Linked DNA regions of Homo sapiens. The protein of the gene in region 2 purifies or fractionates together with the protein of the main gene of each other region. This does not show direct contact. Each region holds a gene or a part of one and is shown on either strand. Other genes may lie near its edges.

Evidence for each region.
Region 1: the proteins of MLXIPL (region 2) and CNTN2 purify together in Homo sapiens (affinity purification with mass spectrometry, with the first as the bait; one study listed by BioGRID). This does not show direct contact.
Region 3: the proteins of MLXIPL (region 2) and PHF2 purify together in Homo sapiens (affinity purification with mass spectrometry, with the first as the bait; one study listed by BioGRID). This does not show direct contact.

What each region holds. Positions count from the first base shown.
Region 1 is NC_000001.11:205,074,064-205,076,500, reverse strand, and holds part of CNTN2 (contactin-2 precursor), read right to left. Parts: 3' UTR 1-2,437. UniProt on the Homo sapiens protein: In conjunction with another transmembrane protein, CNTNAP2, contributes to the organization of axonal domains at nodes of Ranvier by maintaining voltage-gated potassium channels at the juxtaparanodal region. May be involved in cell adhesion.
Region 2 is NC_000007.14:73,593,389-73,597,036, reverse strand, and holds part of MLXIPL (carbohydrate-responsive element-binding protein), read left to right. Parts: intron 1-104; coding exon 105-172; intron 173-247; coding exon 248-398; intron 399-557; coding exon 558-673; intron 674-764; coding exon 765-884; intron 885-1,067; coding exon 1,068-1,195; intron 1,196-1,276; coding exon 1,277-1,400; intron 1,401-2,633; coding exon 2,634-2,763; intron 2,764-3,053; coding exon 3,054-3,172; 3' UTR 3,173-3,648. UniProt on the Homo sapiens protein: Binds DNA as a heterodimer with MLX/TCFL4 and activates transcription. Binds to the canonical E box sequence 5'-CACGTG-3'. Plays a role in transcriptional activation of glycolytic target genes. Involved in glucose-responsive gene regulation.
Region 3 is NC_000009.12:93,656,496-93,660,143, reverse strand, and holds part of PHF2 (lysine-specific demethylase PHF2), read right to left. Parts: coding exon 3,549-3,648; intron 2,000-3,548; coding exon 1,908-1,999; intron 634-1,907; coding exon 544-633; intron 1-543. UniProt on the Homo sapiens protein: Lysine demethylase that demethylates both histones and non-histone proteins. Enzymatically inactive by itself, and becomes active following phosphorylation by PKA: forms a complex with ARID5B and mediates demethylation of methylated ARID5B.

The DNA.
Region 1 (2,437 bases), on a different chromosome or scaffold from region 2:
TGATCGCAGTGAAAATAAGCACACTCTCAACTCCCCCAGCCCATCTGGGCAGAGAACACGAAAATCAGAGAACCCCTGCGCAGGAGGGGATCCTGAGAAACATCTAATCTAGTCTTCTGCAAGCAAGCTCATGTACAAGTCACTCTAGCAGGAGGCTGTTGCATTTTACAAGCTTGCATGTCCTCAGGTCACCTATTGTCTTATTAAACCTTAGTCAGTACTCTACCTGAAATCTCAGGCTGCAGGAACATTTATTTTGTTGTCGTTCTATCCCTCAAACAAATTCTGCCTGCCCAGTGGTTAGGTTTTCCTGGGGCTCAGTTTTCCCTGGCTAAAAACCCTTCGTGGGTCTCCCAGGAGGTCTGCCTTCCTCCCCTTTTTAGTGGACCTCATTAGCATTAAGGTACTTACTTGTGAGTAACTATCGTTGGCCTGAAGCAAGTTTAGTGGCTGTAGCCTCTAGCTTCACTGGTTAGGTCCTATGCCAAACCAGCTCCTCCCTCGGCCCAGCAACTGGACACCTGTCCCCTGCTTCCCCTGACGCAGCCCGAGGCAATGAGGAACGAATTGGATAAAACTTGGAAGGAGGTTTTGTTCAGCATCCCCTTTCTGATAGAGAACCAGGCACAGGCCAAGTCGTGGCCAGAGGGGGGCCAGGAGGGATGCTAGGCCAAGTTTGGACTCCCTGTCAGGGAGAATGGTCGTATAGCTGAGCCCCTAGCACCCTTGCTTGTAAGGGTTGGGAAGAGGTGAGGAGGCTTTCATTAGCCAGCTCCAGGAAAGCTGACCTGGGCTAGGGGTGGGTGGGTAGGGTGCAGTGGGGGTTTGGCTGTGGCAGGGAAAAGGCATGTGAGCTTATATTTTTAAAAAATTGTAGTGGGTAAACATCAACATAAACCTGCCCAGGAAAATAGAGCAGGACTTAAAAGTTTAAAAAACCATAACAAAATAGAGCTCTAACTATAAACTACAGAAAACAGGCTCGGAGCTTCCGAGGACATATGCCCTTCAAGATGCCTGTCCCGCTGCCCCCTGTGAAGGGCCACCTGTCGGAGCATGGGCTTTGGGGTTTCCTAGTTGTGCTGCTGCTCTTGCCTAGGGAATCTGCTCTTGCTTTGGCCTCTTTTCTTGGGGCAAGAGTGAGGGGGACAGGGAGCTTCAAGTCAGCCCTCCATGTTGAAGTTTGGTAGAAGCTCTGCCCACACCTTGGACGGGAACCCAGCCATGCCAATCCCCATGATCACCAATCCGAACCCCTTGAAGTAGAATTTTCACACCCTACTGACTAATCACCTTCTTAGCCAGGCCATAGCCATTCAGCAGTGCCTCCTTCCTCTGGGTAGACAAACAGCCTTGAACAGAAAGGTGGAAGACTCGAGTTCTTAACCCAGCCCCATCTCTTCTGGGCTGTGTGACCTTGGGAATCCCAGACCCTCTCTGGACCACCTCCATTTCCTCATCTGTAAAGTGAGGGGCTTGAAGAAGTTGAGCTCTAAGGCTTCTTCCAGCTCTGACGTTCTGTGACTGGTAGTATACCCAGAGCTCAGGAAAGGATGGCCCATTTATTAACCCCTTTTTCTCCGGGGAAATGCAAGCAGTCCAAGGCCGTCTGGGAGCGGATCTGGCCAGGTGGTCCTAGGTATACCTGGGAGCAGGCAGGGCCACATTTATCCTCTGCCCTTCCCAGAAACCTCCCAATACCAGGACACACAGCATGAATGCTGCATTCCCCTCCCAGGCAGGAGTGAGTCAGTGCTGGGAGAGCAGAGTCTGGGGCTGCAGGTCGGGGAGGCCGAGCTGACTGCAGGCAGCACTGGAGAGGTGGGCGCATGATTGGCCATCTCCTGCCCAAACCCTGGAGGGACTGTGCAGAATGGGTCTTGGAGGGGTGGGAGACCCCACCAAGACAAGCCCTTTAGTCACCCAGCCACCTGAAGTGGCGCTGTCAATCGGGATGACAGGGTCAGGTTGGCAGTGTTGGCTGAGAGGGCATCGTCACCTGGGTTGTGACTATCTCAGACCAAGGCTGGTGCCCCTTTCCACCAAGGGCCCTGGCCTCTCAACTCTTTTTGGCTCCCACCCCAAACAGCCTGGAGTATCACCCCCCTCAAAGCTGAAGGGGCTCAGGCTCCCAGCCTCAGGCATCGGGGCGCTGGTTCTCAGCCGCTTGGGCAGGCAGGAGCCCCTAGGGAGTTATCGGGGACAGCGTCAGGGTCCTTGCTGCTGCTCGAGGGAGAAGGCGGGAGAGCTCTTGGTCCCAGGGCTTGCCCTTCTTCCTTAGACTGAAGGATGGTGAGGTGTGCACTTCGCTCCAGTTCTTCAACCTGTTCATGTCTGGTGTTCCTGCCGGGCCTAGGACTGCTCTCAAGTGGCGGAGTCCGTATAGGGTCCCAGAGGGCCATCTCTGCTGAGTTGAAGACATGTTTTTAAAACCCCC
Region 2 (3,648 bases):
TGTACCTAAAAGGGGTGTGGACTCTTGGGAGGGGCAGGATGGGGTCTTGATAGATGCCGGGGGTGGGCCAGCCCCAGTAGCCTCACGGTTCTGCCCGTGCACAGCTAAGCCGGAGCAAGCCCTGGAGCCACCACTTGTATCCAGCACCCTCCTCCGGTCCCCAGGGTCCCCGGTAAGATCTCGGGCACTGGGCGGTGGGGCTGTGCCCACGGCCTTCAACCCGACTCTCCGCCCTTCTCCACCCCAGCAGGAGACAGTCCCTGAATTCCCCTGCACATTCCTTCCCCCGACCCCGGCCCCTACACCGCCCCGGCCACCTCCAGGCCCGGCCACATTGGCCCCTTCCAGGCCCCTGCTTGTCCCCAAAGCGGAGCGGCTCTCACCCCCAGCGCCCAGCGGTAAAGAGAGGGGTTGCAGGGATTGGGGGAATCTAGGGGATGAGGGGAAGAGGAGGAAGAAGAAGGGGACTGGGTCTGGGGCCAGATGAGAGGAAGGGGGCAATGGGGACCCTTTCCCCTGGGTCGGTCTTTCTGTGGGTCTGTCTGTCCCTACCACAGGCAGTGAACGGCGGCTGTCAGGGGACCTCAGCTCCATGCCAGGCCCTGGGACTCTGAGCGTCCGTGTCTCTCCCCCGCAACCCATCCTCAGCCGGGGCCGTCCAGACAGCAACAAGGTGGGCACCATCCCCCACCCCAAGATCGGTTTGCTACCCCCAGGCCCTCCTGGGCTCCTTCCTAGGCTCACCCAACTCTCTGCTCCCCGAGACCGAGAACCGGCGTATCACACACATCTCCGCGGAGCAGAAGCGGCGCTTCAACATCAAGCTGGGGTTTGACACCCTTCATGGGCTCGTGAGCACACTCAGTGCCCAGCCCAGCCTCAAGGTGAGCCCCGGGCCCAGGCTGGCACCCCCAAAACCACAGGGCCCCTTTCTGGACCCCCCCCACCCAAAACTCAATTGCAGGGGAGTGCTCCAGACACTCTTGCCTCCTCCCATCCCAGTGCCTCAGTGGGTCCCAGGGTACAGCCTCTAGCACCTGCCTGAGCCCCCCTGGTGGCGTCTGCAGGTGAGCAAAGCTACCACGCTGCAGAAGACAGCTGAGTACATCCTTATGCTACAGCAGGAGCGTGCGGGCTTGCAGGAGGAGGCCCAGCAGCTGCGGGATGAGATTGAGGAGCTCAATGCCGCCATTAAGTAGGCAGGGTCCAGGCGGGTGCTGGGACCAGGGGGCCATGCCGCCTTACCCCCAGCCCCTGACCCCTGCCCTGCCCCCAGCCTGTGCCAGCAGCAGCTGCCCGCCACAGGGGTACCCATCACACACCAGCGTTTTGACCAGATGCGAGACATGTTTGATGACTACGTCCGAACCCGTACGCTGCACAACTGGAAGTTCTGGGTGGTATCCTCCCTCAAGCCCATGGCTGGGGGGCTGCAGGGGCTGTGGCAGGGTGAGACCAGGCTGGGCCTGGGATGGAGGCCTAGCTCTCCAGGCCGGGCAGGCTCAGAGCTGCTCCCAGGTGACAGGCTCTGGCTCTGCCCCCTGCTTCCATGCCCTGGCCATCTTGGCCAGCAAAATTGCCCAGGGATGGGGGGCTGGGAGCAGAGAGGGAAACTGAGGGAGGAGTCCTTGGGTAAGGGGAGCCTTGGCCCTGACCTCAGGAAGCCCCGAGGGCAGTTTGGGAGAATCTGAACTCTGGAGTGAGGACTACAGAAGACTTGGAATCCACTCCCTGATCTGGCTCAGGGGTCAAGTTCTTGACTGAGCCCAGGCAGGGAGCTCAGGGATGGGGGATGGTTCAGCACACAGTAAGGGCCGTGGAGGGGCAAGGAGGAGGGGACTGAGAGGCAGAGAGCTGGGAAGGTCTTGGCAGGACAGAAGTAGGGACTGCAAGCCAGGTGCGGTGGCTCACGCCTGTCATCCCAGCACTTTGGGAGGCCGAGGCAGGTGGATCACTTGAGGCCAGGAGTTCAAGACCAGACTGGCCAACATGGCAAAACCCCATCTCTACTAAAAATACAAAAATTAGCCAAGCGTGGTGGCATGTGCCTGTAATCCCAACTACTCGGGAGGCTGAGGCAGGAGAACAGCTTGAACCTGGGAGGTGGAGGTTGCAGTGAGCCAAGATTGTGCCACTGCATTCCAGCCTGGGCAGCAGAGTGAGACTCTGTCAAAAAAAAAAAAAAAAAAAGTCCGAGCACAGTGGCTCACGCCTGTAATTCCAGCACTTTAGGAGGCTGAGGTGGGTGGATCACGAGGTCAGGAGTTCGAGACCAGCCTGACCAACATAGCGAAACCCCGTCTCTACTAAAAATACAAAAATTAGCCAGGTGTGGTGGCGCACACCTGTAATCCCAGCTACTCAGGAGGCTGAGGCAGGAGAATTGCTTGAACCTGGGAGGCAGAAGTTGCAGTGAGCTGAGATCGTGCCACTGCACTTCAGCCTGGGTGACAGAGCGAGACTCCGTCTCAAAAAAAAAAAAAGAAGAAGTAGGGGCTGCAACATGAGTCATTGGGGTTCAACGTTAGACAGTGTCCAGGCCCTTTCTTCCCCTGGTTTGAACTGGGCATCAGGGCTCCACGTGGTGTGGGGGGACCAGCTGGACCACAGGCAGCTCCTTGACCTGGGCCCAGTTCAGCATCCTCATCCGGCCTCTGTTTGAGTCCTTCAACGGGATGGTGTCCACGGCAAGTGTGCACACCCTCCGCCAGACCTCACTGGCCTGGCTGGACCAGTACTGCTCTCTGCCCGCTCTCCGGCCAAGTACGTGAGCCATCTCCCTGCCTGCTAGAGGGACCCAGCCTCGGGGGTGGAGGGAGCATTCCACCCTGCTTAGATCCCACATCCAGCTTGCCATCAACACAGCCTAGGGTTGTGGCCACCCCGCATCCCCCAGATGGTCCTCTGGCCACCAGACGCCTGTAGACAGAGGTTCTAGGAGGGGGTGACAGTCTTGCCAACTAATACCTCCCCCTATCCCTTTGGTTCCACATCCAAGGGTAGGGCCCTGACCCCAGGAAGTGTCTGTCTCTCTCTCTCTGTCTCCCACCCAGCTGTCCTGAACTCCCTACGCCAGCTGGGCACATCTACCAGTATCCTGACCGACCCGGGCCGCATCCCTGAGCAAGCCACACGGGCAGTCACAGAGGGCACCCTTGGCAAACCTTTATAGTCCTGGCCAGACCCTGCTGCTCACTCAGCTGCCCTGGGGGCTGCTTTCCCTGGGCACGGGCTCCAGGGATCATCTCTGGGCACTCCCTTCCTGCCCCAGGCCCTGGCTCTGCCCTTCCCTGGGGGGTGGAGCAGGGTCCAGGTTTCACACTTGCCACCTCCTGGAGGTCAAGAAGAGCAGAGTCCCCGTCCCTGCTCTGCCACTGTGCTCCAGCACCGTGACCTTGGGTGACTCGTCCGCTGTCTTTGGACCGCTGTGTTTCAATCTGCAAAATGGGGATGGGGAAGGTTCAATCAGCAGATGACCCCCAGGCCTTGGCAGCTGTGACATTGGGGGCCTAGGCTGGCAACTCCGGGGGCTCAACGGTGGAAAGAGGAGGATGCTGTTTCTCTGTCACCTCCACTTGCTCCCCGACAGGTGGGGCACAGACCTCTGTTCCTGAGCAGAGAAGCAGAAAAGGAGGTTCCCTCTCTCTG
Region 3 (3,648 bases), on a different chromosome or scaffold from region 2:
GCCCAAGACGGTCCACACACCAGGATGCTGGAGACACTCAGTGCCAGGCTGGCGGGGAACTATCAGCCCAGAAAGGCTCAGCTACCCCACACCATCATGTGACACACTCACACCCAACCCATGCTATTGTGTGACACACTCACACCTGCGACATGCCATGAGTCACTTGCTCTCCCCAAGGCTCTTCTGTCCTACCCCAGCACAGCGGCTGAGGGCTCATCCAGGAACACACAAGCTGGGACTGCAGGGGCTGAGTCAGGGGCTCCTCCCACAGAGTGCCCTCCCCATGGGAGTTTCAGAGAGGCTGGTGCCATTTCTCAGTCCCTACACACTCACACCAGGACACAGACCCAGCCAGAGACCTAGGACCCTGAGCCCTCACAAAGGCAAGCTTGCCCAGGAAAGTGCAAGGAGGACCATCTGGGGCACTGGCCTTCCCAGACCTGGCAGCTCTGTGTTAGGCTGGCCCCTGGACCCAGAGAAAGACAGGTGGGCCCTCCCCAATCCCCAGGGGTCCAGCCCAGCACCTGGACACGGCCCCACCTCACTGAGCCGGATCTCTTTGGCCAGGTCTTTGATTAGCTGTGAAGGTTTGAAGTGCTCCGGGAGCTCGTCCTCATGCTCTGCCAAAGCCTGCAGGACAACCGGACCCAGGGTCAGCACCAGACACCTCCCGTGGTCCTGACTTACCCCTGCATTCTTGCAGGCTGTCGCCTGACTGCCGAGCCACTCAGATGAGCATGAGGCGAGGGGCTTCCGAGCCAAACTCTGCCCTGGCAAGAGGTCTCTGCTGTGAGCCCCCATCAATAGGTGGACAAACCAAGTACCAGAGAGGACAAGCTTGCCTGAGGCCACCACCAGCAGGCTATGGAATGGACAAGGGTCCCATCCCTTCTTCCTGGTCAGAGGCCACTCCACCCAGCCACATGGCTAAGGTGAGGTGGCAGGGGCGCCCTGGACTGCCCTGGGCCTTGAGGCCTGACGGAGGTGGTGGCTGCAGGATGGCCCTGGGAGTGCACTGGCTGCCTCTCCTGCCTGGCCCACCCATGAGAAAGGCAGGCTACACATGGTATTCCCTGCAGCCTGTATTCCCTGAAGGCTTCCTGTAAATCTCCACTGGCCTTCTCTGGCCTGGGAGAGGGTCCTCCTCCCTCAAGAGTGGGCATAGTACCTCTGCACAATGAGCCCAGTAGGAAACACTGTCCCAGAGGGTGCTCGAGGCTGGGCCAGACCTTCCCCTCCCTTCTGTAGCCAAAACCAAGGGAAGATGCTAAGCAACACAGTAAGTGGCTTCTGTGGGGGCGCGCACAGGATGGTCATCGGTAAGAGTCACAGGGAGGGGCTGCCCGGGTCACAGAGCAAGGTGGCTGGGGTGCTGCACCTGCAATCAGGCAGCTTAGCTTCTGAGCTGATGCCAGGGCCAGCCAGGAGGAGCCGACAGGGTGTCCCCAGCACTCCCTGTCCTGGGGCCAGCCACTCCCCCAGTCCTTCCCTGCCCCCACCAGGTTCCAGGCCTTTCTGTGCTCACACAGTGTCATCCCACCATAGGCCATCTGTCCCCCACCCACAGACCCACCTTCCTCCCAGGACACACCAGCACCTGGTCACCCTCCTCCCACCAACTTGTGACTAAGCTGTGAGCCCCTGATGGAGGGGGCTCTGCATCTACATCTGTCCTCCCCCAGCCCTCAGGTGGCCCAATCAGTGGACAGCAGGGGACGGACCCATGGGGTGTCTGGGGCAAAGGCACACCCCGGGCCAAGCCAGGCAGGGGAGCACCACCGTCCTTCCCAGGCTGGATCTCACTGAAGCAGGACAAGTCCTGGACATTGCTGCTGGGTCTCCAGGGAGGTCCTCCCGCCTGTCACTGCTCTCCTGCCCTAGGGCATTTGTGACATGATTCCTACCTGCTTCTTCGTCCACGATCGGAAAGCACCATTGAGAATTTTAGCTCCTTGGACTAGATGAGGGGGCAGCTGCTTCCCAGATTTGTGAGAGCCTGGGAAGGAGACACTGGGTGAGGTGGGTGGGTGCCTGCTGCCCACAGGTGCCTTCATGCCCAGCCACATAGCCAGACCGGGGGATGCCAGGTCCAGCCTTCCAGAGGTCTCCCTCCGCCCATGGCCACCAGCTCAACTGCCAACAGTTCCTCTTGGAACCTGGGGGCGCCCATCCTCCTGGTGGCCTGCCCTGCTTGAGGAAAGATTGGCCCTCCCACCATCCTCCCACTGTCTCACCCTCCAGGCCCCTAACACAGGCTGCCTTGCTCTCCTCACTCTGCCCAATACCCCAGCCCTACCTGAGCAAGGGGACACAGTCATGCCAGGACCCAGGCCACAGGCTGTCCATGGGCCCACACCAGGCATCCCCAAGCATCTCTTCCCACCTCATGGCGCCCCTTAGCACAGTGTAGGGACCAACTACATTTCAGCTGGGAGGTGTGCTCCTGCTGTGGGCCTCCCCTCCCTCTTCCCATTGAAGAGGGCTCCAGGGCTCCAGGGCTCTGACGCACCAGGACCATGGCAGCTCCCTGGGTCCTCTCAGTCCTGGGGGCCAACTGAACTGTCGTCCACTCAGAGAGGGAGGGTCAGGCAGAGAGGATATGGCCACAGTGGCCTGGCTGGCCAGTAGTCAGGCTGGCCCTGTGGGGTGGCTTCCCAGGTGCTGCCCTGATCCCTGCCTCCCTGGCACCAGTCCCCTGAGGGCAGGGTTAGACTCCCATCTTGGGCACTTCCTTCTGCCAGAGTCAAGCTCAGGGCTCCAGATTTGGGGAACAGTGGGAAAATCTTACCGCAACCTGGCCAGCCGTGACTAAGGACCATTTTACCTTCTCAAACTAGGGCCAGAGTACAAAGGGTCTGCATAAAAGAGCTCTTGGCTGCTATTAGAACCAAAAAAGAGCAACTAAGAGCAACCACACCGAGAAAGGAAATCACGCATAAATGCAAACTCTCCTGCAGGCTCCCTCACGCTGCTGGGCAGTCTGGAGGCCTGGACAGGGTGGTGGCTGGCAGGAGCCACCTGCTCTCATCTCTGAGGGTGTGGCCAGGCAGGACCTGGGACAGAAAAGGGCGGCCCGGGGATGCCAAAGTGCATCCACAGAGGGCCACCGAGCCACAAGCCTGCCTCACGGTCCAGTTGCCAGGCCCCTGAGGGAGCCTAAGGGGACCCAGAGCCCACTCGCACCCACTCCTCAGCTGGTGACAGAGCCAGGGCTCCACCCTCCCAATGGAGGCAAGTGTGGAGGGTGGAGCAGGTGTGATTGATACCTGCACTGAGGCCATGCACACTCACCCCTCTCAACCCACAGCCCAGTGTTCGTTCTAAAACAAGGGACAGTCCAATCGGAAGGAGAGGCCCAGCCTGTTCAATCTAGTCCTGCATTATACAGATGGGGAAACTGAGCCCCAGGGGTCTGAGTCCCAAGAGGACTTGCTCAGGCCACAGGAAGGCGGCACTCACACCCAGACAGTCAGCCCTGACCAGGTCTGGCTGCCCCCACAGCCAAGAGCCCCAGGCTTGGACGCCCACCCCGGAGTGACCAGTACCTTTGAATGCCTCCAGCAGGTGCTTCCCCATGTACCAGCACGCAGTTTCAAAGTTGGGAAACTGAGTCAGGCTGCCCAGTTTCAACCTCCTTTCCACTTC